Linked DNA regions of Homo sapiens. The protein of the gene in region 3 interacts with the protein of the main gene of each other region in a pairwise test. Each region holds a gene or a part of one and is shown on either strand. Other genes may lie near its edges.

The links.
Region 1: the proteins of EVX2 (region 3) and BPIFB3 interact in binary tests that used the Homo sapiens proteins (3 or more experiments, as listed by UniProt).
Region 2: the proteins of EVX2 (region 3) and ZMYND12 interact in binary tests that used the Homo sapiens proteins (3 or more experiments, as listed by UniProt).
Region 4: the proteins of EVX2 (region 3) and ITIH6 interact in binary tests that used the Homo sapiens proteins (3 or more experiments, as listed by UniProt).

Annotation. Positions count from the first base shown.
Region 1 is NC_000020.11:33,049,808-33,056,916, reverse strand, and holds the start of BPIFB3 (BPI fold-containing family B member 3 precursor), read right to left. Parts: upstream 3,015-7,109; 5' UTR 2,952-3,014; intron 1,587-2,951; exon of another isoform or gene 1,496-1,586; 5' UTR 1,482-1,495; coding exon 1,370-1,481; intron 376-1,369; coding exon 219-375; intron 1-218.
Region 2 is NC_000001.11:42,432,016-42,439,040, reverse strand, and holds part of ZMYND12 (zinc finger MYND domain-containing protein 12), read left to right. Parts: intron 1-2,497; coding exon 2,498-2,620; intron 2,621-3,655; coding exon 3,656-3,767; intron 3,768-5,752; coding exon 5,753-5,898; intron 5,899-7,025. UniProt on the Homo sapiens protein: Required for sperm flagellum function and male fertility.
Region 3 is NC_000002.12:176,080,962-176,088,404, reverse strand, and holds the start of EVX2 (homeobox even-skipped homolog protein 2), read left to right. Parts: upstream 1-4,442; 5' UTR 4,443-4,628; coding exon 4,629-5,055; intron 5,056-5,955; coding exon 5,956-6,227; intron 6,228-7,443.
Region 4 is NC_000023.11:54,767,237-54,774,261, forward strand, and holds part of ITIH6 (inter-alpha-trypsin inhibitor heavy chain H6 precursor), read right to left. Parts: intron 6,962-7,025; coding exon 6,845-6,961; intron 1-6,844.

The DNA.
Region 1 (7,109 bases), on a different chromosome or scaffold from region 3:
CTAGTGTTGACCCCAGAGCTGGAACCCTCAACCACAGTGGCATTCTGCTGTTCTTGTCCTGCCAGGCATGCAGTAGAGTCATCATTTTTAGACCCGGATCACAACCCTCCCACACAACCTTCACTGCCTATTGGACAAATTACAAAGAGACAATCTCTCCTCAATTCCTGGAAGCAAAGCCAAGTCTTCCTGTAGGGCATGCAGCAGGTGGGACTCACCCAGAGAGCTCCTCGACAACGCCAAAAACCCCTCCGTGGCCCAGCAAGCCGCCTCCTCCAAGCAGCCCTCCTGAGCCCAAGAGGCCCCGGTTCACAGCTGTGACCGATCCCAGCACATTCTGCAGAATGGGCTCCCCAACCAGTGAGTTCTGGATGGCTGCAGAGAGAGTGGAAGTAGGAAGGTACTAGAAACTCCAACCTCACCCCCAGGACCATGGCAGCTGCCTCCTTCCTCTGAGATTGAGTAGGCTTCTTTTTAAAAATGGAATTAACCCAGAGGTTACACTCAAATGGTGGAACCCACTAAGCCATAACAGCCTCTTACTCCCACCGCAGGGCCTGTGGCCACCCTCCCTGCCTGGCATGTGGGAGGTACCCAGTAAGTGTTTGGAGAATGAATGAGCAAATCTCATAACAATCCCTTCATTTTACCAGTGGGAAAACTGAGGCTCAGAGAGGGGCAGAGACGTGTCCAAAGTCACACAGCAAATTGGGTTGGGGTCAGTAGTGTAACTTGGCTCCTGATCCTGGACTGCCCTACAGCACTGAAAGGGAGGGCAAAGAAGGGGGAGCTTGTAGCCACCAGGGCTCAATCAAGTTGGAGGAGATGGTCTCTGCTTCTCTCCTGGGCACTCCAGGCCTGACTCTGTGCAGACTGTGGGAAGGGCAGGATGGAGGAATGGCCCTGTAGAGTAGAGGCAGGCCAGGGGGCCTCTCTGAAGCATTTCCTGCTCATGACCAATCTACTCTATCCCTGAGACTGTCACCACAGGCCACCGGGCTCTGTAGTACCAAATGCCAAGTACAGTTCCCTTACCCTAGTGATGTGAGGCAGAGACACTGGCCCAGCTAGCACCCTCCCCTCGACCTCTTCAACCTCACTCTGTCCCTGTCCCTGAGCCACACACAGTCCCCAAACAGCCTCAGCCCATATCACCCAGTCCACCTCCCGTAAGAGGGAATTCATCGCCCATTCAAGCCTGCAAGGGAAACTTTCACTCCTGCACAGCTACTCCCAGGAGAATGTGCTCTCTAAGCAGCTGAGAATCACAACCTGCTCTTATCTGCTCTTAAAGCAGATGCTCTAAGCATATAGATTGAGTCGTTGACATTGCAGCAGCCCCCTCACAGACTGCCCACCTGGGGCTCACCTTTGCCGAGTTCATCCTTGTCAATCCGAGCGAGCGTGCCCACCGTCTCTAGCAGCTCCTGGCATGGAGTCGCCAGGCCCCAGAGCAGAAGCAGGGACCACAGGGCCAGCATGACTGGCTGCATGCCTATAAGGAGCAGAAGGAGGAACTCTGAGACCCTTCTCCTGCTCAAGCCTTTCCCCTCTCTGTTCCCATTATCAGCCTTCCCCCTTCCTGCCCACCTGGCACAGCCCAAATTGAGCTTCACTCCCAGGAAAGCCTTCTCCTCCCAAATGTAAGCAGAGCTAACACGCAGGTGGCACGGTGCAGCTGCCAATGCACTCAAGTCTCCAAGGCACTTTCCAAGCCTCTCCCTCATTGGGTTCCATTTCTCAGCTGGGAAAACTGAGACCGAAAGGGGTAGGGGACTAGACCAAGGCCACAGAACTAATCAGAGACAGTCAGAATTCAAGCCTGAGTCCATCTGACATAAAAATCTTCATCCTCAGAGGCCCAGTGAGCCTGGCCGGGTGTCTGGAGTGACAGCTGCAGACAGAGGGGCTTCCCCCTCCAGGACAGCAGGATGAGAGCTTTGTTTCCAGCAGCTGCTTCCCACTGGCTCATGAGGCTGTTTCAGAAGGTCTAGCTGACTGGGGACACCCAACACTTAGACTTAACATGTCTTATCTTTCTCCTTCCCCCACCTCCACCCCAAATCTTGTTGAAAAAGGGAATGGGGTGGCAGGTGGGGGCATGGCTAATCTGCTAAGTTCACAGAGTGGGATTTTTCTTTAAGCAGTTCCGTATTTGCCCACCCAATCACATATCCATCTATGCCCACCCATCACTCCTGCTTAAACCCTTCAGTGGCTCCCCGCTGCCCTGGGTTGAAACCCAGGCTTCTTGCCATTACCCACAAAATCCCTGCCTGCCTTTTTGACCTCCTTGAGCTTAAACATGCCAGGCCCCTTCCCACCCCAGGGCCTTTGCACATGCGGTTCCTTGTTAGGAAGGCTCCTCCCTGCTTCTTTGCATGGCTGACTCCTTATCATTGAGATTCCGGATAAACATTGCCTCCCTGGAGAGGCCTCCGTCCTTCACTTTGTCTAAAGAAATCCGTCTGTCACTAAACATCACGCAGAATATTTACTTTAAGGTGCTGATCTCCATTTGCAATTATGCATCTGTTTGTGTCCTTATTTCTCTTCCCTGTAAACTCCATGAAGGCAGGGACCATGTCTAAGGCCTCTGTGCGTGGTTGTGTGTCAGAAGGGGTCCCTGCTGAGGGGGCAGGGGATAGAAATTCAGCAGCATGTCACTGGCCAGGAGAAAAATGGGCACTCCTGGAACTCTCTCCATAGGATCATCCTATGGACAGGGATCCCCTGCCCACCCCTCCGGCTGTGAATATATACAAGTCTTTGCCTCTCTCTGGGCCCCAGATCTGTAACATGGTTTTTCTCTTCATCCACCCTCTTGGTACCCCCAGTCTCCTCCTAGGGTGAGTTCTTTCCGTGCCCATCATTCATATGGGAGGGCAGAAGGCAGTGGGGTCAACGGCTGGGCGTCAGGACAAGAGCAGGGCTGCCTCAGGCTGTCTTACCCTTGCTCCTGCAGCTCCACAAGGGGTAGGTGGGGGCTCCCGGCCTCCTGTCGGTTCCTCCACCCACGCGAGCTGAGGGGTGGCCCTTATATGCCCACGCGGCTCTGAGGACACAAAGGGGCCACGGCCGCCAGAATCCCGTCAATATGTCATGTCAGAAGCAAATTGCGGTTTTCCCCGAGGGCCTGGGCTAAGCCTTCCTCCTTGGAGGCGAGTAAGGGGACTGGGGTCGGTGCCCAGGAGTGGGAGTGAAGGCGTGGGGGCTGCACAGGCAGCCACCTCCCTCAGAGCCAGGGGTGAGGTGTGGGGCCCTGCCACCTACCCATTCAGCCACCTATTGGGCTCCCTCCAAGGCTCCCCAAGAGCCATTCCAATGGCACAGAATCTACCCTGCCTACCCCACCCCTTCCCCAGCGAAGGCCTACGGAGGGAAAGAAGGGACTTAAAGCTGCTGGGTCTTCTACCTTCCGCCACCCTCCCCCCGCACCAGGCCTCACATGGAGAGGGCTATGGGCCTGGAGACAGGGACTCTGGGCACACTTGGGGGAGGGGCATCAACTCCACCCCCACCTCCCAAGGCTCAGTATCCCCAGAGTTCCAGAGCTTTGTCCCCTTTCCGAGGCTGGTGCAGATGACAGCGACGAGAAATGCGTCCATTCATTCACTCCACTGCAGGCATTTGTGAGGCACCCACTGTCTGCTAGATGCTGGGGAAATCGCTGTAAATAAAAGAGACAATCTCCCCTGCCCTGAAGGAGCCGACTAGTGGAAATGCAATGCAATTTAAAACTTTCTAGTAGCCACATTTTTTGAAAGGCAAAAAGAAACAGGTGAAATTAATTATAATAGTCTAGTTTATTTACCCCCACCAAATCCAAAATATTCTCATTTAACATATAACCAACAGAAAATTATGAATGGGGTACTTTACTTTCTTTTTCTCATACTAAGTTTTCAAAATCTGCTTACAGCACACCAAGATTTGGACTTGTCGCACTTCAGGCAATCGCCTTGTATGGCTATTGGCTGTCATATTGGAAAGCACAGCTCTGAAAGGGACAAATAAGCACATAATACAGTAAGTTGGGGCTGGGCGCGGTGGCTCACGCCTGTAAACCCAGCACTTTGGGAGGCCGAGGCAGGCAGATCACAAGGTCAGGAGTTCAAGACCAACCTGACCAACATGGTGAAACTCCGTCTCTACTAAAAATACAAAAATTAGCTGGGTGTGGTGGCAGGAGCCTGTAGTCCCAGCTATTTGGGAGGCTGAGAGAGGAGAATGGCGTGAACCCAGGAGGCGGAGCTTGCAGTGAGCTGAGATCACACTCCAGCCTGGGTGACAGTGAGGGACTCTGCCTCAAAAAAAATAAAAAAAAAATTATATATATATATATATATATATATATATATATATATACACACACACACACACACAAATTAGCCAGGCTTGGTGGCGCATGCTTGTAATCCCAGCTACTTGGGAAGCTGAGGCAGGAAAATCACTTGAACCTGGGAGATGAAGGTTGCAACGAGCCAAAATTGCCTCACTGCACTCCAGCCTGGGCGACAGAGTGAGACTCCATCTCAAAAAAAATACAGTAAGTCGGAAGCTAACAACAAAAATAAAGCAGGGAAGGGGCTCAGGAGTGTGGGGAGTGGGTGCCATTTTCAATAGCGTGGTCAGGGAAGGCCTCATATTGAAGCAGGGGTGACTTTTGACCAGAAGGAGAAGAGGGAAGGAGTCAGATGGCTGTCTGGGAAGAGCCTGCTGACCAGAGGGACCCCCACACAAAGGCCTAGGGTGGTGTTCCAGGAACAGCAGGGGGGCCATGTGATTGGAGGGGAGTGAGAGATAGGTGGTAAACAATGTGTGATGAAGCCCTGGAAGCTACTGTATGGATTTACAGACTTTGGCTTTCATTGGCAATTCCTCTGAAGGCACCAGCTCAGGCATCCCTTCCTCCAGGAAGCCTTCATGAGCCCCAAGCTGCATGAGGTATCACCTCTGAGCTCCCACAGTCCCCTGGGATTTCCTCTCTCAGAATCTGTGACATGCCAAGCTGTCACTGTGTCTGTGGCTCTGTGAGTCTGTGGGTCTGTCTCCTGCGTGGGGCCCTGAACCTCTGCCTGCTAAGATGGGGAAGAAGGATGGCATTTGCCTTGTTTACCTCAATCATCTCTAAAGCCCTCACCCTACAATGTTCATTCTGATGACTTTAGGCCCTGGACCAGGTTACTCAACCACACCACACTTTTTTAAAAGATAAACTTTTTACTAAAATCTAAACCATGTACACAAAAAGGGGCACAGATCACAAGTATACAGTGTGATGAATTTTTACAAATGGAGCCCTCTCAAAGCCCTCTTTGTGTCCCCTCCAAGTCACTGCCCTCCTGGTGGTGACCACTGTCCTGACCGCTAACTCAGTGCTGAGTCCAGCATGCTCCTGGGGGTCACTAAGTGCAACCGCTGTGTGCTTTATGTGCGTGGCTTCCCTGCTCCCATTGTGTGAGGCAGTGACTGGGTCTTCTTTGCTGTGTACTACTCAATTATGCGAATCCCTACAGTTTGCTTATCCATTTTCCTGTCCAGTGGTGCCTGGGCTTTCCAGGTGTTGGCTATTATGAATGAAGCTACTATGAACACTCTTGTTTGTGGACATTTTTTTTTCTTTGAGACAGAGTCTTGCTCTGTCACCCAGGCTGGAGTGCAGTGGTGTGATCTCAGCTCACTGCAACCTCTGCCTCCTGGGCTCAAGCAATTGTCCTGACTGAGCCTCCTGAGTAGCTGGGATTACAGGCACCTGCCACCACACCTGGCTAATTTTTGTATTTTTCATAGAGACGGAGTTTCACTATGTTGGCCAGGCTGGTCTCGAACTCGTGACCTCAAGTGATCCTCCCACCTCAGCCTCCCAAAGTGCTGGGAATACAGGCATGAGCCACCACCCAGCTTGGGCCTATGTTTTTATTCTTCATTTCTTTTGGGTAAATAACAAGGAGCTGAATTGCTGGAGCACAGCATGCATGCGCATGTTTAGCCATACTCTCTATGGCTATGGTTCCCCTGAGCATTATGCCATTGCACGTGGTCAATGCTGCTACTCCACAGCCTCATCTGTGCTGGGTATCCCCAGTGTTTTTAAGGCATTTGTTTGAAGGAAGAGGAAAGAAAACTAACACTAGTATTTATTCGGCACATACCGTGTACAAGGCACCTGCTGTATGTGAGCACATCTAGTCACCACAAAGACCCAGTGAGATCAGTGCTGTTATTATTTCCTCTTCTTACACTCAAGAAGCCAAGGCTCAGCAAGGGTAAGCAGCTTGCCGGATGTCACACAGGAGTCCAGCCAGACCGTCTAACACTCATTGTCTTAACCACTGCCCAGCCTAGCCTCTTGGAAGAGAGGAAAATGCTACCTAGTTGTTTCTGGCCTGCTTCGTCTCTCCTCCTCCTTCCCGATCCCCACCCAACAGGGGACTCTGACACACCCATAAGCTCCCCAGGCGTCCCCATATCCCCTCATGCACCAAAGCCAGGTCAGGGATTGGGCCTGCCCACGGGAAGGGATTCATTAAAATACATATCTCTTGGCCTCACCTTTGGCAACACTGATTCCACTGACAAGCACCTAGGGGGACGTTTAACAAGCCCCCAAGGCAATATGATGTGCAGCCCTTTTGATATCCCTGGTGAGGGTGATGGGAAGCCAAGGAAGGGATTAGAGCAGGGGAGGGACTTGATGAGGAGAAATACCCCTGGGCATTAGTTCCTAGAGTAAAGGCTCTGGAGCCAAAATTTCTGGGTCCACATTCTGGCTCTGTCACTCACAATTGAGTGACTTAACTCACAGAGCCACAGTTCTCCCATCTGCAAAATGGGCTCATATTAAAGGTGGCCCTCCTCACCTAATTGGTATGGCTGTGAGGACAGGTATCCTAGAAATGAAATTTAAGGCATCAAGGGAGGGGGGCCAAGGGTGCAGATGGTGGTGAGATCCCTGGGAGGCCTCCCCATGCTACTCGAGCTGAGAGTGGGCTGAGAAGGGAGAAGGCAAGGTAAGTGGGTACTGGTATGAACACAGGTGTGGGGAACATCGTGTGGCTTCATTTTCCCAGGGTGAGGCTGTCTGACAGGTCCCGGGGGGTCAATAG
Region 2 (7,025 bases), on a different chromosome or scaffold from region 3:
TTAAAAGAGCTAGATGTATAAGAAAGCACTTATCGATGATAAAACTCTGTACAAAGTTAGATGGGATGTTGAGGATGATAACTGAATTGTTCTTTCAAAATTTAAGGGGTTTCTATTAGGATTTCAGTACTGGAAAATATTACCAGAGAAAAGAGTTCCTGGGCGTGAAATCTGAGTTAGCGTAGAGTCAGACTGCAGTCTCCATGCAGGTTGGTTCTCTCTTCAGCCTCTCTTCTGGCCTCTGCACCAAGCAGCCCTTCCTCTGGTTGCCCGCCTGTACAATGCCCGTAAATTAAATTTTACGCTGGTTATTCTTTAAATTCCACTAACCCATATCCATTCTCTGCCCTACTCTATGCCCTGGGAGCCTGACCTCTATGGACTACACAACCTCTATGGACTCCATTGCTCTCTGGCCTTGGTTGGGTTTGGAGAGTGGAAGGCATAGTAGGGGAGTGGAGAGTAGGAGGAGAAAAAGGCTGGGGTACTGATTCTCTCTGCTGCCTCTCTGCCCCACCCCTGATCTGTCAGGAACAGTGTTCCTCTGTGGCCACAGCTCCTGTCAGGCAGCCTTCTTCCATAGTGCTAGCTCTTGCTGGGCCCTGGTAACCTTGTTTCCTCCCCTTGCTGTTTCAGGTGTAGGGATGGTAATAGTTTCTTGCTGTTGGTAGTCCCTGGTGTTTCACTAGGCTTTGTTGGTTTTACTCGTAGGGCTTTTCCCTAGCCCTTGTTGGTTTCTTAACCCTTCTACATGTCAAGTAATAATTCCACTAAACTATCTTCAGGCAATCTTATTGAGGGTGCCATCTAGTTCCACCTGGGCTCCTGACTAATACAATTCTTTGTGTTTCCTCTCTATACTCTACATCCTCCAACAAATTAAGCAGAGGCACATTCTGTCCTGAGCTGGGCCACACAGTTAAGAATTAGTAGGCCAGGTGTGGTGGCTCACGCCTGTAATCCCAGCACTTTGGGAGGCTGAGGCAGGCAGATCATGAGGTCAGGAGTTCGAGACCAGCCTGACCAATATGGTGAAACCCCGTCTCTATGAAAAATACAAAAATTAGCTGGGCGCAGTGGCTCACGCCTGTAATCCCAGCACTCTGGGAGGCCGAGATGGGCGGATCACCAGAGGTCAGGAGTTCTAGATCAGCCTGACTAACATGGTGAAACCCCGTCTAAATATACAAAATTAGCTGGGTGTGGTGGCATGTGCCTGTAATTCCAGCTACTTGGGAGGCTGAGGCAGGAGAATTGCTTGAACCTGGGAGGCAGAGGTTGCAGTGAGCCAGGATTGCGCCACTGCACTCCAGCCTGGGCGACAGAGTGAGACTCAGTCTCCAAAAAAAAAAATATGAAAATTAGCCAGGTGTGGTGGTGTGTGCCTGTCATGCCAGCCGCTCGGAAGGCTGAGGCAAAAGAATCACTTGAACCCGGGAGGCGAGGTTGCAGTGAGCCAAGATCGCACCACTGCACTCCAGCCTGGGCGACAGAGGGAGACTCTGTCTTTAAAAAAAAAAAAAATTAGCACAAGCTCAGATTCCTTAGCCTAGCTTTTTAAACACACACACACACACACACACACACACACACACACACAGAGCTTTATTGATATATACCATAAAATTCACCCATTTTACGTGTACAATTAAATTATTTTTAGCAAATTTACAGAGTAGCGCAACCATTAGCACAATCAAGTTTCAGAACATTTCCATTACCCCAAAGAGATCCCTTGTATCCATGCGCAGTCATTTCCCATTCCTGTTCCAGCCCCAGCAACCACTTCCTGTTTCTACAAATTTGCCTTCTCAGGACAGTTCATACAGACAGCATCATGTGTGGTCCTTTGCATCTGACCTCTTTCACCTAGGGTGATTATTTTGAGATTCATCCATGTTGTTGCATGTATCAACAGTTCATTCCTCTTATTGCTGATTAGCATTCCATTGCCTGGATATACTACAATTTGTCTATCCATTTATCAGTTGATGGACATTTTGGTTGTTTCTATGTTTTGTGTATTTTAAATAATGCTGATATAAACATTTACGTACAAGTCTTTGTGGGTAGGTACTTAGAAGAGGAATTTCTGGGTCATGTAGTAACTCTATGTTTAACTTTTTAAGGAACTACCAAACTGTTTCCACAGAGGCTGCACCCTTTTACATTCCCATTGGCAATGTGTGAGGGTTTCATTTTCTCCATATCCTTCCCAACACTTTTTATTTTCTGTATTTGATTCTAGCCATCCTAGATGCAGTGATATTTCATTATAGCTTTGTTTTGCATTTACCTAATTACTATGTTAGTATCTATACATGTGCTTATTATTCATCTGAATATCTTTTTGGAGAAATGTCAATTCAGATCTTTTGCCCATTTTTAAATTGGAATGTTGTAACAGTTTTTTGTATGTATTCTAGATACAAGTCCTTTATCAGATATATGATTTGCAAAAGGAACTCAAGCACTCTCCTTCTTCCTTCTGCTATAGATTTATTTTGCCAGTTGTGCATTTGGAACAGAGGACATTAGGACTTCAGGAGGCTACTTCCACCTGGCTAATATATTCTATGACCTTAAAAAGTTGGACCTGGCAGACACATTGTACACCAAGGTGAGCTGGGGAATGTGGGAGCTGAGCCTTCACTCTTAGGCTTGGTGTCTTACAACTTGTATTAGACTATTCATGAAAAACATACCATTCATGAGAAAGAGAGGCACAGAGAGATGAAGTGGCTTGCCCAAGACTATATAGCCTGATACATGATATACTCCATTTTCTTTCTTCCAGTGTCTCCACTACCAAAATAGACTAACCCTTAACATCCGTAGGGTGATTAACGAATAATGAAGGACAGGTCAGTAAGAGCCAAACCCCTTCAGATAGACTGTTGTATGCTGTGTCATACCCATAGCAGCAAGCTAATGTGGGCTTATTGAAGTGTGCGATAGAGAAGGAGATTTCCAAGGGAAGTCTGTTGCTACAAGATCCTGTCAAGGGATCCAAGAACATGAGAAATTTCCATATTTACATGTAAAATATTTTAAACTGTTTCCAATATATTAAAATGTCAGCTGTATCCATATAGTAACACCTCACTTAGCAGGCAATCATTTGTGTAATAAATGTGTAATACAGGCTTTCTGCTGATTGTTGATTCATGTTTTAGACCTGCTTCTGAGAAAGAGGCATTTTGCTGTAGTTTAAAAGCTTTAGAATCAGATAGACCAGGGTTTAAATTCTGGCTATGCCACTTAACAGCTCTTACCAGAAGTCGTGTGTGATCTTCTCTGAGCCTCGGTTTATTTACATGTAAAATGGGAATAATAAGAATATTACATCAGGATGTTGTGAGGATGTGAAGGTTTCGTGTTGTGTGTGCTATACAAAAGATAACCACTGTTATTAGACCCCACTAGGGCTACCCCAAGATGAGCTGCCACAGGCCCTTTTCAGCCCATCACTTGTCACACTTACCTTGGCCAGGCCTGTTTGGGCTCCTAGGGTTCCCTCTGCCTCCAGGCACAGTAAGAGAGAGAACCTCCAGGTTGTCCAGAAGCCCGGCCAAATGCGCTACTCTCCTCACCTGCCTGGTCCGACGGCTGAGGTCTGGCCTGCTTGTTGTATTACCATCTCTTTTCCCAACAGGTCTCTGAGATCTGGCATGCATATTTGAACAATCACTATCAAGTCCTCTCACAGGCTCACATCCAACAAATGGATTTACTGGGCAAACTATTTGAGAATGACACTGGCTTGGGTAAGTGGCAGTTTTCCCTGAAGGGAGAGCAGTGACTTCATCTCACCCAATACACAGACCTTGTCCCTAAGAGGGAAAGCAGCTGTCCCTGTCATGAAGCACACCATTGCCACCTTCCCCATGTTGCTGATGGAGAAAACTGAGACACGGGGATCAAAGAGATTTTACCAGTGTTGGGAAGAATTCAGATCCCTATCATCACACATAGCCATTCGGGGGTTACTAAGGGACAGATTTAGAGGGAAAAAAAGACCACATCAAAGCCCCCTGTGATTTCTGCAGAGCATCCATTTCTATGTTATCCCTCCAGGGCAGCAGTCCCAATCTCTCCCTGGCACCAGGGACCCGTTTCATGGAAGACAATTTTTCCATGGACTGGGGGGCGTGGGAGGAATGGTTTCAGGAGAATTCAAGTGCATTACATTTATTGTGTACTATGTTTTTATTATTATTAATATATTGTAATATATAATGAAATAATTATACCATGCATCATAATGTAGAATCAGTGGGAGCCCTGAGCTTGTTTTCCTGCAACTAGATGGTCCCATCTGGGAGTGATGGGTGACAGTGACAGATCATCAGGCATTAGATTCTCATAAGGAGTGTACATCCTAGATCCTTTGCATGCACAGTTCACAATAGGGTTCACGCTCCTAAGAGAATCTGATGCTGCTGCTGAACTGACAGGAGGTGGAGCTCAGGTGGTAATGCAAGCAATGGGGAGTGGCTGTAAATACAGATGAAGCTTTACTCGCCCCTACCACCCCTGCTCACCACCTGCTGTGCAGCCCGATTCCTAACAGGCCACAAAACAGTTCTGGTCCATGGCCTGGGGGTTGGGGACTCTTGCTCCAGGACACGTAAGCCAAGGTAGACTCTACACAGAAGGTGCATTGCTGATTTCTTCTGGTGCCTTAACTTCATGCTTTACTGAACAGTGAGCTTCTCAGTGGCAGGGCCCAGTTGGATTAAACTGTATTCCCCGGGCCAGCAAAGGGCTAAGTGTTGAATAGTACCGTACAGCATCATGCCCTCAGAGACAATGAAAAGACACAGAGGATCTAGTTTCTGCTCAAAAGAGACATACAGTGCAGTTGGTGATATAGAACCTATAGGCAATAACAAAAGAACATTCCTGTGAGTACAAATTATGTTACAAGATGAGTCCCAGAATGAAGAGGTGAGGACAGCTGGGTGGTGTTGAAGAAGGAAGACTCTTTGGAGGAGAGGTTTTGAGCTAAAGTTTAAAAAATTAATAACTTTATTGAATTTTCTCTCATTATGTAAATAGTTCATGTTATAGCTGAAAACTTGGAAATCATAGATATCCAAAGATAGCCAACCTTAACATGATGGTGTATATCCTTTTCGTCTTTTTCTCTAAGCTTAGTACTTGTATAAGTGCTTTTAAATGCATGTAGTGACTTCTCAGTAAATGATGACTAAAGTAGGACCAAAAACTACTGGGGAAAATAGTAAACAGACTCTCAGAGGGAAGCATGAAGGTTGTTGCTTACGCATCTATGGCCTAGACGAGAAGAGTTAAGCTGCTGCAGCTGCAAGAAGTCCCTTCCCCCAGTTCTCTCCTCTCAGCTGTAGAGTGGAATCTGAGTTGGACCCAAGGAATCTGCCTGTGGCAGATTATCTGTGTTTGTAAGCCCAAGAGATCTAGAGTTCAGGACTCCGAAAGAGAGAAACCTTAGCAACTTTGGGACCTGTGGGAGTGAGCCTATTTTTAGGCTACTCTGATAATGGCATGCTAAGCAAAGCTGGAAAGCGGTCTGAAACTCCTGCTTCGGAGCTTCCTGCTTTGCACCTGGAGGGAGTCCTCTAGGTAAAAAACTTGCTGTAATTGGTGCTATTTCCACCAGTGCCCTTGGGAAGGCTTCAGCAGACCAGGCGCTTTAACAGCTGAGTGCTTTTGATGAGGGCAGACTCAGTTGCCAAGAGCCTGTTTTTTCTTTCTTCCCCTTCCAATGCAGATGAAGCCCAAGAAGCAGAAGCCATTCGCATCCTGACTTCAATCTTGAACATTCGAGAATCTACATCTGACAAAGCCCCCCAAAAAACCATCTTTGTTCTGAAGATCCTGGTCATGTTTTACTACCTGATGATGAATTCTTCAAAGGCAAGTTTCCCTAAAAAAGCAACACGTCTAAAATGAAGGTAGAAATTCAACTAGTTGAACTCAAAATTTGTGTTTTGCCCAATTCCAATAGCTTTTGCCCTCAGAGCAAGCCCTCACTCCAAAGAGGTTCAGATGCTCACGATGTTTCTCCTGTGTTGAGTCTAGCCTGCATAATGGAAATTGGATTGTCTTCTTCCCCCGAGGGTTCCCAGTCTTGCATAGATAAAGAGAGTCTGAGGCAGTGCTGGGAAGCCTGCAGGGCAGGAAGGCTCTGGGGAGCCTTGGATGGATGAAGTAGCCGCTCTAACTCCACTCAGTTACTGAGTTCCCTGTTGCTGCGGGGATTCAGGCAGAAATGCATTGCCATGAAATGATTCAAAAAGTAACTTTTTGAGTACTTTTACCTACCAGTTATTGGCCTAAACCCTTTACATAATTATCATACTTAATGCTTACACCAACATTAATGAGGTAGCTATTTTATTATCTCTACTTTACAAACAAGGAAACTGAGGCACCGAGAGGGTCAATTCTTTGCCCAATGTCTTACAGACAGCAAGTAGCATATCTCAGGTTTATTGACTTATTGGTTGATTCTCTCATTCATTCAAACATTTATTGAAAATCTACCATTTGTAAAGCACTAATCTAGGGACTGGGGATACAGTGGTGATCCATACGTTTCCTATCTCTATGGCACTGGTGTTTTTTGGAGGAGTGGAAATAAACATATGTATGTGTAATATAATTTCAGATAGTAGAAACTGTTATAAAGAAAACTAGCCAGGCACAGTGTCTCATGACTGTATTCCCAGTACTTTGGGAGGCTGAGGAGGGATGATTGCTTATGTCCCGGAGTTCAAGACCAGCCTGGGCAACATAATGAGACCCACTCTCTACTAAAAATAAAAATAAAAAGATCAGCCGGGCTAGAGGTGTGCACATGTAGTCCCAGCCACTCGGGAGGCTGAGATAAGAGGATTACTTGAGCCCAGGAGATTGAGGCTGCAGTGAGCCGTGCTTGTGCCTCTGCACTCTAGCCTGGGTGACAGAGCAAGATCCTGTCTCAAAAAAAAAAAAAAGAAAAAGAAAAAGAAAAGAAGAAGAAGAAGAAGAAAAAGCAGTTG
Region 3 (7,443 bases):
CCCAGGAAGAAAGTATCCCCCAACTCCCGCACCACGACCTTCCTCCGTGGGGCGCGGGATTGCGACGGGAGTGGGAGGAGGAAAGACAGAAGCAACCGGAGAGACCCGGAAGGGACAGAGAGCTAGAAGCTGGCCTGCCGAGGGCTCGAAATCTGAGTCTTCCCTTATGCAGCGAAACCTGCACCCGTGGAAACCGCACTTCGCCTGAAGACAGGGAGCCCGAGGCTCGAAGCCCAGGCTTTCGCGGTCCTACTGTCCCACTGCACCCTGCAGCCCCAGCTCTCGAGCAAGCATGCGTCCCAAGGCGGGACCGCAAGTTGTCGGCCCCAATTGCCCGCAGCCCCCCGCGTAAGAGGAGAGCCAGGCTCCGGCAGCGGCAGACGCGGGGCTTCGCTGCAGCTACGGCTTTACCGGCGCCCCTCCCCTCGGGCAGCCCGGACAGATTTTTATTACCTGCAGTCATAGGCCAAAAGTGTTTACCACTTCACCTCAGAGGACCCGCTGCTGCTCAAGAAACAAATATTTAGTCTGGAAACCTAACCAAAAAATTAGGCCTCTTCAAAGTCATTACTCCTTTAGAACAAAAAGGGCTTTTCAGTCCATGCGAAGGAAGTCCTTCCTGTACTCCCCACCCCATCTTAAAAATTTCTGCCAAAGCATGCGGGCTTGGGTTGGATTCTTGACTTGTTTTATCTAGTGGGTTCTGTACCTTGGTAGTGGGTAAGAGGCCTTGACGGTCACAGAGGCTGCATCAAACCACCCGGAACATTTGACAGGCCTGTTCCCAGCCTTGGCCTTCACATTCTGGGAGACGTGCAAGTTTGGGTATTTCATCAAAAAGCATCAACAGGGAGGGGCGCAGTGGCTCACGCCTATAATCCCAGCACTTTGGAAGGTCGAGACAGGCGGATCACCTGAGGTAGGAGTTCGAGACCAGCCCGGCCAACTTGGTGAAATCCTGTCTCTACTAAAACTACAAAAATTAGCCGGGCGTGGTGGCGTATGCCTGTAATCCCAGCTGCTCAGGAGGCTGAGGCAGGAAAATCGCTTGAACCCGGGAGGCGGAGGTTGCGGTGAGCTGAGATCTTGCCATTGCACTCCAGCCTGGGCAACGGTGTGAGACTCTGTCTCAAAAACAAACAGACAAACAAACAAACAAAACAAACAAAAACCACCACCAACAACAACTACAACAAAATACACACACAAATCAACAGAACTGCACTCTTCTTACTACCCTCTATATAGGTTCAATGTTTTTGAGGTAGGCCTGTATTTACATAAGGCATATGCAAAATGAGAGAATTAACCTAAAAAATGCTGCCCAAGGCTTTAAACAACACTTTTGACTTTATCATCGGAGATAAGTTTAAATCACAAGTCCCTGAACCCCTCTGGCTCATAATCTCTGGAAAAGGGATAATAGTTTAAATCTCACAGAGTTACTGTGAACCTTAGCTGAGATAACATGTAAAAAGCACTTGGAATTGCAAAGTAAGAGTTTTGTATAAGTTAGCCAATATTACTACTAGTGGGCGTGGAATCTCTAAATAAATTAAGGGACATTAAATATTGGAATGGAATGGTCACTGTACCTCATGAAACATTATTGCCTGCTACACCCAGTTTAGTGGAAACATTATAGGTGTCTTTTACTGTGAGTAGTTTCGCTGACATGTCTCTGACATGTTTTTTGTAATAAACGTGCTAGAAATGCACTATCAGTGTCATTTAAAAGGTGCAAAAATAGTTTTCAAAGCCACTAATGAATGAAGGTGCTGCTGAGAAATAGTGTTTTCCCTTTCGACAGACTGAGGTCCGGTTTGGCGCAGCCTTTGGGACCAGAGGCGTCGGGTCCCAGAGGAAGGGAAGATGTGGGAGAGCCTCGGGCTGAGTGATAGAGGAAGGGGTCGTCAGTCCTCACCTTAGTCCCCAGTGACTGCGTCTCCGACTTGAAAACCAACTCACAGCAGCCGAAACCGCGAGGAAAACAGATGGGGGCGCCAAACGACAGCAATAAAGGCATCCACGGATTTCCACCCAAGCAGTGCCTCGGTTCACCCACACTCCCGCCAGGGTCTCGCACCACTTCCCACCCCCACCACCCCAGCACGACCCGAGCCTGAACCAAGGTGTCCCATTCAGTCCCTGGAGCAAGCGAGGACTGGGTAGGGGGACCCTTCCTGGGTCACAGGAGCAGCGACTGCCAGGCATGGCAGAATTGGGCATCCGGGCTGCGGAGCAGGGAGGGAGCAGGTGGGGGCGTTGGCAGGGCTGGACTCCCACCGCGCTGATGGCCCCAAAGCCGGCGCAATGAGAACTCAGGGAGCTCGGAGCTGGGTGGCCAATGGGGCAGGGGCAGAGGTGGACGCTGGGTCAAGTCCCAGTCCCGGTGCGCTGGATGCCCACTCTGCGTTCCCCGCCGGTTCCCCGTTCCCCCAGGCACCGCCTGCCTATCGAGCTTTCCGTTTATTACCTTAAAGATGTGGAATTGATTTTCTAAGCAAAGCTCGCGTTGTTGAAATAAGTTGGCGCCGAGGGGAACAGAAGATAAACTTTTGGCATTGACTATATGTGTGTATATATGTATATAAATATACTTCACACCTCGCTTCCCCTTACATTCCTGATGCGCCCCCAACGGGTCTAAGGTTAAAAGGAAAGCGCCAAGAGCTATAGGCGAATAGATCTCGAGCTTGCCCCCTAACACACCCCAATGTTCTGGGTGTGTCGGCAGAAAGAAGAGGGGGCCCTGGTTGGGGTTCGGATTGAGGCTAAATGTGGGGATGCAGGACCCGCGCCCAGCGCCCAGATTGTCAGGGTCTCTCAGCCGCTTCAGAAGCTCACGGGCGGACCTCCGCGTCCCATCCCCGTCCTCCCTCGCCTCCGCCTGTGTCCGCGAATCTCTCTCCGGCTGGGCCGTTGGCGGGTGGGCACAGTGCTTGGAGGGTCAGGGAAGGGTGGGCGCAACCGCGGGAGATGAGGAGCGGCCTGGAGTGAAGATTGATCTTCGTTAAAATGGTTGCCACCGGCGTCATTATGACTATCAAAGTTGTCGCCAAGAGGCTCAGCCTCCAAGCCCAGGCCGCAGAGAGCTGCTGTAAGGCTGTTCGGCGACTCTCTGCGCCCGGACCCAACGCTGGGAATACCTGTGGCCGCAGGTAAGGGGCTGGGGTTGATGAGGGGAGGAAAGAGAGAAGGAAGAAAAGCAAAGGGGAAGGGAGGGCAGCGGGGAGGTAGGGGAAGAAGGCTGTCTCCTCTTTCCTCTTTTGACCTCGAAATCCAGCGCCTTTGCCGCAAATAATTCTATTTGAGGAGGGAGGGGAAAATCTGGCAACGTGAGCGTGGATTCGGAGCGCCCGTATGGCGCTGTAAATCTCCACTGTGTTTAAAGTTAGCTGTCGAATTCTGCTATCAAATCGTCCAGCCTAGTTCGTTTCCCCTCAGGAAAATGCGTAGGCGAGAAGGCTTTCTATCAGCAGGATTATAAAAGTAAAAAACCGGGGACTTCGAGTTCAGATCTCACTCTGCAGACGGTGTTAGAAAATCAGAGAGGACCTAATGATTTCCGTTTGGAGGCGCGGGCCCAATGCACCTCCGCGGCCACGTAGCAAGAAAGCGCTTTCAAAACTCTAGGATATTTCTATTTCTCTCTCTCTCTCTCTCTCTCTTTCTCTCACTCCGTCTCCCTCTCCCTTTCTCCCTCTCTCCCTCTCTCCCTCTCTTCCGCTCTCTCTCTCTCCCGGGGTGGGAGGAGAGCATTTAGGCTGAGGTGAAGAAATAGGGAGGGAAAGAACTCCGGCGTCCTATTTGTTAAATAAAATACATATTTGGTTCCGAAATCCGAAAGATAAGTAATCCAGATAGGAGAGGCGCAAGGTCTTCTCCTTACGCAACTCTTCCTGCATCCTCCCCCTTATCTCCCCCCACTTATGCCCCCAGCTTGTAAATGGTAAAAAAAAAAAAAAAAAAAAAAAAAAAAACCAAACCTTCCCGAGGACCTACTCTGGAAAGTCAAACCATTATCTATTATTTAATACGTATCTGTGTCCAAGGAAAAATGAAGAAGGCGCTGCATGATTAGGACCTAAGGGGCAACCTAGCAAACTGAGAGCGTAATGATGCCCCTAAATGAAGGGGGAAATGTGCCGCGGCGCGCTCTATTAATCAGACTGTCAATTTCACCCCCGAGGCCAAACCCCCGGGCGAGCAGAACTGGCTCGGAGCGGGCAAAGGACCGGAGCCTTCCTCCTCACTTGTCTCTTCTCGCCTCCTACCTGGATCTATTTGTCTGCTCTGAAGCTGCCTTCATTACCCACTGACAGGAGGGTGTATTTATTTGCTTATAAACCTGTTACAATAAATGATTATTCGAACAGCGTCATTCGTACCTTAATGACGAGCGGGCGCTACTTTTTGATGAATGACATCTCGGGATCGGAAGGATGTATGGGTCATTTTGACCAGTCATTCCCTCGCTCTGGCATCCCACAATTTTTCCGCCTCCCTCCGAAAGCGATAATAATATTTAGAGGCGTTCGCTGGGGCTGAATGAGAATTAGCCCTAGGCGCAGCCTATCATTAGGACGGGACAGCAGGGCCACTGTGACATTTTTAAGAAAGCTGAGATGATGGAAAGAATAAGAAAAGAGATGATTCTGATGGAGAGAGGGCTGCACAGCCCTACGGCGGGCAAGAGATTCTCCAATTTGTCCAACTCGGCTGGCAATGCTGTGCTCGAGGCCCTGGAAAATTCGCAGCACCCGGCTCGCCTAAGCCCGCGCCTGCCGTCTGCCCCCCTGCACAGCGCTCTGGGAGAACTCCCCGCCAAGGGCAAATTCGAAATAGACACTTTGTTCAACCTGCAGCACACGGGCAGCGAAAGCACCGTCTCCTCCGAAATCTCCTCCGCCGCCGAGAGCCGCAAGAAGCCGGGCCATTATTCAGAGGCGGCCGCTGAGGCCGACATGAGCAGCGACGTGGAGGTGGGCTGCTCCGCGCTTCGCTCCCCCGGGGGCCTCGGCGCCGCTCAGCTTAAGGAAAACAATGGCAAAGGTAACCGCGCCGGCCGCACCGCGCTCTCCAGTCCCATCCTCTTTGCTCCTCCGCGGCCCCCGCCAGCCTTTCCCGGTGCCTTTTCCCCTCTCAGACCCTCCACAGGCAAGCTACACCGAGCTAGCACGGGCGGGGGCGGGACGCATGTCTGGGACCGTGCCTTCCAGTTCTGCTCCTTGAGCTTTCCCGCCAGGCTCAGGCCTGCGGAGCCTGGAACACCAGGCCCACCCGCCCTCGCTCCTGAGTCCGAGAAAATGTTTCTGCGCTCGTGTCTAAGAGCCCGAGCGAGCCGGTAGACCCCTAGTCAGCAGCCGAGTTGCTTTTGGGAAAGGTACCCTGGGCAACTACTCTGAACTCCCCTGCCCCTGTGCCCTCAGGGCTGGAGGGGGCATTCTTCTGGGTAAGTCGGAGGAAGCCTCGCCGGCGTCTCTGTTTAGGTCAGCGGGAGAAAGAGTTGAAAAGTATATTTCACCCCCTATTGGCTTGGGTTTGAGCTACTGCTGTGTTGGAACTCTTAAAATATTTGAAACCCCGAAGACTCAGATAAAGGTTAGAGGCCGTATAAAAAGCTGCCCTGCGGTCTCCAGACCATGGGAAACCCAGAGCTTCCCAAACTGCGCCCAGAGGTAGGCATTTTCCCTCGGCCACTTTTCCTCCTTGGTTGAAAATTTCTAATTATTAAAAAAGAAATCTCCTAATTCCGTTTCTATTATTTGCTTATGAAGGGCTCCCCAAACTTTATTGATTCCATTAACGGCAGCAATTTGTAAGCATGACAGACCCCATCAATTCCGGCAGCGACTCTCCTTCCTGACGGGGCTTCCCCGATCCGCGCGCAGCGCCAGCGCCGGGCTGTTGGTCCTACAGCCACTCATGCGCTGTTGGTCGTTTGTTTGCCAGGGTACGCAGAGAGCGGCTCGGCTGCCGGCACCACGACGTCGGCGTCGGGCTCAGGCCTCGGAAGCCTGCATGGAGGCAGCGGAGGCAGCGGCGGGAGCGCGGCGCTGGGTGGCTCCGGCTCTGGCGCGGATCAAGTGCGGCGCTACCGTACGGCGTTCACCCGCGAGCAGATCGCGCGCCTGGAGAAGGAGTTCTACCGGGAGAACTATGTGTCGCGGCCCCGCCGGTGCGAGCTGGCCGCGGCACTCAACCTGCCCGAAACCACCATCAAGGTATCAATTCCAGTGCATGCCTGCTCTGGCCTCCCCGGGGGCATCTGGGTTGATTGTTTCTTTTTCCCCTTTCCCCTTTCTGGGTGGCTAGATTTAGCTAAGGGTCTGGAAATCCGCGGGGGGTAGTCACCAAAGGAATTGGCTTATTTATTTCCCGGCCACCGAATCCGAACGGTTGTCCGGCCTGACGGATCTAAGAAGGCCCCCGAATGGTGACTCCAATGCTGAAAGCACTCGCCCCTGCTCCATTGTGCCCAACGCCTGGCCAGATGCCCCCTCGCCCATACCCACGGCCCCACTTTCCCCTAGGCGGCAAGCCCAGTTGGTCTTTGTTCCTCAAGCAGGAACCAGAGGTGAAACTTTTCATTTGCTCTTGAGCTTGGAGATTTATTTTCCGCATAAATCGTTACACGGAGAAAAGGATACTGTATCTTTAAAATCGATTGGTTTGAGACAGTAGTTTCCTGAACATTTTCCTCTTGGGCAACGAAAAAAGGGCAACCTCCTGCGGGGAAAAATGCAACGAAATTGTCCTTATTTATATATAACTTTAGGTTATTAATTTTATTATACGTCTGGGAGAGATAGCCGGGAGGTTAGGCGATTTGGTGAGCCCTTCATGGAGCGTTCGACACTGCAGAAAAAAGAAAAAATCTCCACGGGGTAGGGGAGGAGTGTGGAAGTCTCCCTCTGGTTTGATCGGGCTTTCTTTAATTTAGAGTTGTGACGAATGATGTCTTTATTAGATAGTGTTGGGAGGGGTGGAAACGTCCCCTTCCCCGTTTATGGAGACATTGCTCTACCCACTCATTTAAGGCAAACGATTCCAACAAAATCATCCCTTCAATATCAAAATCGGACCCGTGCCCCTAGGGGCAGGTCCTTGCAGTTCGGAGGGCTCAAGACTTCGCGCGGCGACCTCTCAGAAAAGCTGAGCGGCAGCCTCTCTTCAAAGGCTGCCCAGAATCCCCGTACAAATCCTGGGATTGAGAGACGGGTGCTCAGCGAGACCGGCACTGGTGGGTGGCGGGAGGGAGAGGAAAGGTTGGATTGGGACAAAAAAGTGCAGCAAGAAGTAAGGGAATAAAAGCCTGAGGAGCAGCAGCAGCCGGACGCGGGGGAGAGGACCCTCTTCGTTGAGGACGGTGTGCCCACGGCGGTCCACACACTGCCGTCCACACTTTCCCAGCTGGGAGACCACAGGGTACTCGGGGTT
Region 4 (7,025 bases), on a different chromosome or scaffold from region 3:
CCCCTTTATCATTTTTTATTGTGTCTATTTGATTCTTCTCTCTTTTTTTCTTTATTAGTCTTGCTAGCGGTCTATCAGTTTTGTTGATCCTTTCAAAAAACCAGCTCCTGGATTCATTGATTTTTTGAAGGGTTTTTTTGTGTCTCTATTTCCTTCAGTTCTGCTCTGATTTTAGTTATTTCTTGCCTTCTGCTAGCTTTTGAATGTGTTTGCTCTTGCTTTTCTAGTTCTTTTAATTGTGATGTTAGGGTGTCCATTTTGGATCTTTCCTGCTTTCTCTTGTGGGCATTTAGTGCTATAAATTTCCCTCTACACACTGCTTTGAATGCGTCCCAGAGATTCTGGTATGTTGTGTCTTTGTTCTCGTTGGTTTCAAAGAACATCTTTATTTCTGCCTTCATTTCGTTATGCACCCAGTAGTCATTCAGGAGCAGGTTGTTCAGTTTCCATGTAGTTGAGCGGCTTTGAGTGAGATTCTTAATCCTGAGTTCTAGTTTGATTGCACTGTGGTCTGATAGATAGTTTGTTATAATTTCTGTTCTTTTACATTTGCTGAGGAGAGCTTTACTTCCAACTATGTGGTCAATTTTGGAATAGGTGTGGTGTGGTGCTGAAAAAAATGTATATTCTGTTGATTTGGGGTGGAGAGTTCTGTAGATGTCTATTAGGTCCGCTTGGTGCAGAGCTGAGTTCAATTCCTGGGTATCCTTGTTGACTTTCTGTCTCATTGATCTGTCTAATGTTGACAGTGGGGTGTTAAAATCTCCCATTATTAATGTGTGGGAGTCTAAGTCTCTTTGTAGGTCACTCAGGACATGCTTTATGAATCTGGGTGCTCCTGTATTGGGTGCATATATATTTAGGATAGTTAGCTCCTCTTGTTGAATTGATCCCTTTACCATTATGTAATGGCCTTCTTTGTCTCTTTTGATCTTTGTTGGTTTAAAGTCTGTTTTATCAGAGACTAGGATTGCAACCCCTGCCTTTTTTTGTTTTCCATTTGCTTGGTAGATCTTCCTCCATCCTTTTATTTTGAGCCTATGTGTGTCTCTGCACGTGAGATGGGTTTCCTGAATACAGCACACTGATGGGTCTTGACTCTTTATCCAACTTGCCAGTCTGTGTCTTTTAATTGGAGAATTTAGTCCATTTGCATTTAAAGTTAATATTGTTATGTGTGAATTTGATCCTGTCATTATGATGTTAGCTGGTGATTTTGCTCGTTAGTTGATGCAGTTTCTTCCTAGTCTCGATGGTCTTTACATTTTGGCATGATTTTGCAGCGGCTGGTACCGGTTGTTCCTTTCCATGTTTAGTGCTTCCTTCAGGAGCTCTTTTAGGGCAGGCCTGGTGGTGACAAAATCGGTCAGCATTTGCTTGTCTGTAAAGTATTTTATATGAAGCTTAGTTTGGCTGGATATGAAATTCTGGGTTGAAAATTCTTTTCTTTAAGAATGTTGAATATTGGCCCCCACTCTCTTCTGGCTTGTAGGGTTTCTGCCGAGAGATCCGCTGTTAGTCTGATGGGCTTCCCTTTGAGGGTAACCCGACCTTTCTCTCTGGCTGCCCTTAACATTTTTTCCTTCATTTCAACTTTGGTGAGTCTGACAATTATGTGTCTTGGAGTTGCTCTTCTCGAGGAGTATCTTTGTGGTGTTCTCTGTATTTCCTGAATCTGAACGTTGTCCTGCCTTGCTAGATTGGGGAAGTTCTCCTGGATAATATCCTGCAGAGTGTTTTCCAACTTGATTCCATTCTCCCCACCACTTTCAGGTACACCAATCAGACGTAGATTTGGTCTTTTCACATAGTCCCATATTTCTTGGAGGCTTTGCTCATTTCTTTTTATTCTTTTGTCTCTAAACTTCCCTTCTCGCTTCATTTCATTCATTTCATCTTCCATTGCTGATACCCTTTCTTCCAGTTGATCGCATCGGCTCCTGAGGCTTCTGCATTCTTCACGTAGTTCTCGAGCCTTGGTTTTCAGCTCCATCAGCTCCTTTAAGCACTTCTCTGTATTGGTTATTCTAGTTATACATTCTTCTAAATTTTTTTCAAAGTTTTCAACTTCTTTGCCTTTGGTTTGAATGTCCTCCCGTAGCTCAGAGTAATTTGATCGTCTGAAGCCTTCTTCTCTCAGCTCGTCAAAATCATTCTCCATCCAGCTTTGTTCCGTTGCTGGTGAGGAACTGCGTTCCTTTGGAGGAGGAGAGGCACTCTGCGTTTTAGAATTTCCAGTTTTTCTGTTCTGTTTTTTCCCCATCTTTGTGGTTTTATCTACTTTTGGTCTTTGATGATGGTGATGTACAGATGGGTTTTCAGTGTGGATGTCCTTTCTGTTTGTTAGTTTTCCTTCTAACAGACAGGACCCTCAGCTGCAGGTCTGTTGGAATGCCCTGCCGTGTGAGGTGTCAGTGTGCCCCTGCTGGGGGGTGCCTCCCAGTTAGGCTGCTCGGGGGTCAGGGGTCAGGGACCCACTTGAGGAGGCAGTCTGCCCGTTCTCAGATCTCCAGCTGCGTGCTGGGAGAACCACTGCTCTCTTCAAAGCTGTCAGACAGGGACATTTAAGTCTGCAGAGGTTACTGCTGTCTTTTTGTTTGTCTGTGCCCTGCCCCCAGAGGTGGAGCCTACAGAGGCAGGCAGGCCTCCTTGAGCTGTGGTGGGCTCCACCCAGTTCGAGCTTCCCGGCTGCTTTGTTTACCTAAGCAAGCCTGGGCAATGGCGGGCGCCCCTCCCCCAGCCTTGCTGCCGCCTTGCAGTTTGATCTCAGACTGCTGTGCTAGCAATCAGCGAGATTCCGTGGGCGTAGGACCCTCCGAGCCAGGTGTGGGATATAGTCTCATGGTGCGCCGTTTTTTAAGCCGGTCTGAAAAGCGCAATATTCGGGTGGGAGTGACCCGATTTTTCAGGTGCGTCCCTCACCCCTTTCTTTGACTCGGAAAGGGAACTCCCTGTCCCCTTGCGCTTCCCAGGTGAGGCAATGCCTCGCCCTGCTTCGGCTCGCGCATGGTGCGCGCACCCACTGGCCTGCGCCCACTGTCTGGCACTCCCTAGTGAGATGAACCCGGTACCTCAGATGGAAATGCAGAAATCACCCGTCTTATGCGTCGCTCACGCTGGGAGCTGTAGACCGGAGCTGTTCCTATTCGGCCATCTTGGCTCCTCCCCTTAAAATTCTTTACTCTTATGTCTTCCACTTATTTTTTGGCTTCTCTAGTTTTAACTGGGCATTTTACATGATCCCGTTTTATCTTATCTCTTAGCATACGCATTAGACTTAAAAAATTTTAGCAGTTCCCTTAGAGTTTGCAGTATACATTTACAACCAATCCAAATCCACTTTCAAATAACACTATACAGCTTTATGCATAGTGCAAGTACCTTGTAACAGAGTATTCCCAATTATTCCCTCCCATCCTATACAATATTACTCTCATTAATTTCACTTATTCCTAAGCTACATTCACTAAATACATTGTTATTTTGAAAAAATATTATCTGTTAGGTCAGTTAATAAGAAAACTATTTTATTTTACCTTCATTTATTCCTTCTCCAACACTTTTCCTTTCTTTATGTAGATCCAAGTATCTGAGATATACCATTTTCTTCCTCTATGTAGAACTTCTTTTAACATTTCTTGCAAAGCAGGTTTATTGGTGACAATTCCCAAAATTTTTGTTTGTTTGAGAAAGTCTTTATTTTTTTTTCACTTTGGAAGAATAATTTTGATGTATACAGAATTCTAGGCTGGTGGGTTTTTTCCTTTAACACTTGTAATATTTCACTCCACTTTCTTCTTGCTCCCATGGTTTCTGAAGAAAAGTCTGATATAGTTTATATCCTTGCTCCTCTATAGGTAAGGTACATTTTCCTCTGGCTTTTTAAAAGATTTTTCTGCTGTCTGAATATGATATGCCTAGGTGTAGATTGTTTAGTATTTATCCTGCTTTGTGTTCTCCTAAGCTTCTTAGACCTGAGGTTTGGTGTGCATAATTTATTTTGGAAAATTTGTATCTATTATTACTTCAAGTATTTCTTCTGTTCCTTTCTCTCTTTCTTCTCCTTCTATTATTTCCATGATGCATATGTAACACTTTTAAAATTGTTCCACAATTCTTGGATATTCTAGGGTGTTTCTTAAAATTCTTTTTATTTTTGTTTTTTAGCTTCAGGAATTTCTATGAACGTATCTTCAAGCTCATTGGTTCTTTACCCAACCATGTCCAGTCTACTGATGAGTGAATCAAAGGGATTCTTCATTCCTGTTGCAGTATTTCTGATATCCAGCATTTCCTTTTTATTTTCCTAGGGTTTTCATGTCTCTGCTTACATTACCATGTGTTGTCCTTATATGTGGTGCACTCTATCCATTAGTGCCCACAGCATATTAATCATGGGTTTTTAAATTCTTGGTTTGACCCATTAAAAAATTGGCAAAGGACATGAACAGATACTTCTGAAAAGAAGACATACATGTAGACAACAAGCATACGAAAAAAATGCTTAACATCACTGATCATTAGAGAAATGGAAATCAAAACCACAATGAGATACCATCTTACACCAGTCAGAATGGCTATTATTAAATAGTTAAAAAAAAACAACAACAACAGATGCTGGCAAGGTTGTGGAGAAAAGGGAACGCTTATACACTGTTGGTGGGAGTGTAAATTAGTACAACCATTGTGGAAGACAGTGTGGCAATTCCTCAAAGATCTAAAAACAGAAATACCGTTTGACCCAGCAAACTCATTACTGGGTATATACCCAAAGGAATGTAAGTCGTTCTACCATAAAGACTCATGCACATGTATGTTCATTGCAGCACAATTCACAATAGCAAAGACATGGAATCAACCTAAATGCTCATCAATAGTGGACTGGATAAAGAAAATGTGGTACATATACACCATGAAATACTATGCAGCCATAAAAAAGAATGAAATCCTGTCCTTTGCAGGAACAGGGATGGGAACTGGAGGCAATCATCCTAAGTGAATTAATGCAAGAGCAGAAAACCAATGCTACATATTCTCACTTATCAGTGGGAGCTAAACATTGAACACACATGTACACAAAGAAGGGGACAAGAGACACTGGGGCCTACTTGAGGGTGGAAGTTCGGAGAAGAGTGAAGATTGAAAAATGATGTATTACATACTGTGCTTATTACCTGGGTGACAAAATAATCTGTACACCAAAAACCTGCAATACTAAATTTACCCATGTAACAAACCTGCTCATGTATCCACTGAACCTAAAATAAAAGTTGGAAAAAAAATTTCAATCAAAAATAAAATTGTTTGATAATTTCGACATATCTGACATATTGAAGTCTGGCTGTGATGTTTGTTTACTCTCTTCAGACAGTGTTTTTCTCCTTTTAGCATGCCTTCTCATTTTAGGTTGAAAGCCAGACGTGATGTATCAGGTAAAAGGAAATAAACTAAAAGGCATTTAGTGTGGGGTTTTAAGTTTATCTGGCTATGAGTTAGGTAATGTTTCTTGTTTGGGGCAGTTTTAGTTGTCAGAGGCTAAAACTACTATTTTTTTGACAGGGTCTTGCTGTGTTGCCCCAGCTTGAGAGCAGTGGTGTGATCTTGGTTCACTGCAAGCTCCACTCGCTGGGCTCAAGCCATTTTCCAAATGCAGCCTCCTGAGTAGCTGGGACTACAGGTGCGCACCACCACACCTGGCTAATTTTTGTATTTTTAGTAGAGACAGGGTTTTGCCATGTTGCCCAGGCTGGTCTCAAACTCCTGGGCTCAAGTGATCCACCTACCTCAGCTCCCCTTCTAGTGTCTGTATTTTTGTTGCTTCTGTTGTCTTTGGTTTTCCCTAGGAACATTTTCTTCAATAGGGTTTGGGCTTGTAGTTCTATCAGCTGTAACTTTCCGTTATTGCCGAGGAGCCCAGTTGATGTGGTGATAATGTGTGGAGTGAGAGGAAGCATTCTATACTCTTATGAGGAGGTCTCAATCTTTTAGTGAATTGGTGTCCCTGAGATAGAAACTTCACAAGGACTTCTGAGATTTTTACCCCTCCTCAGTGAGACAAGAAGGCTAGAAAGGGCTGGATTTGGGGAGATCCCTCCCCCTACACTGGGGCTGGGGAGCTGGCTTGGGGTATTACCCATTTTTCCCCAGGTTGCTCAACTCTGGTAAAACAAACTCAGCCTTAGGTCCCAAAGGCTCTGTGATTGAAAGATTAAGGAGCAAAGCTATACAACTGCAAGACACCGGTACAAAAAGCTCCAGGGTATTATGGTATGAAATGCTGCCTGCAGAACTTTATGGATTCAGGGACTAAAGTCAAAGCCTGCTTGGTCTACGGCCTCAGAACTCTGACCCATGGGCACAGTGGTAGAAGTGCAACAAGATTAAAATCGATATGACTCCTGACTCTATGGTTTCTAATTCTATAATGCTAGTACTCTATACTATTAGGCCTTTAAAGTAAAAAAAAAAAAAATTACAAAGACCCAAAACCTTGTGGCCTCAGGAAGACTCAGAGTCTTTCTCACCTAAGGTTTTCTTGCTTTTGGATTCTAGGATCCCAGGGTGCTCTAGCTTGAGGGTCCTATATGACCCTGGGCTTTCGTGGTTGAGGGTCTCAATGGTTTCACAGTGACCAATGTGTCAATGTTCTTAGGACTCTGTGGCTCCAGGTCCACAGGCTCCTGTTAGGTAAGATACCAGGACCCTAGGGTAGGCCCAAGCCTGTAAGACTCAAGGGTCATGGGATGGTGGAATCTCTTCTCCCAGGGCCCCATTGTTACCACGCTCTCTGCTTTCTGGGTCTTCTGATACTAGGACTAAGAAAGGTTTCCAGGATCCTTGTTACCTGTTCCATCTTGGTACCAAACATGGAGCTGCTTACGTCAATAACAAAAACCACATTCTTCTCCATAGGTGGAAGGCCTCTGGGGGCAAAGTAGTGAATGAAATAGTCATCGTAAATCTGGACCAAAAAAAAAAAAAAAAAAGTAGAACCAAGAAGAACAGTGAAAGCCAATCTAAATCAG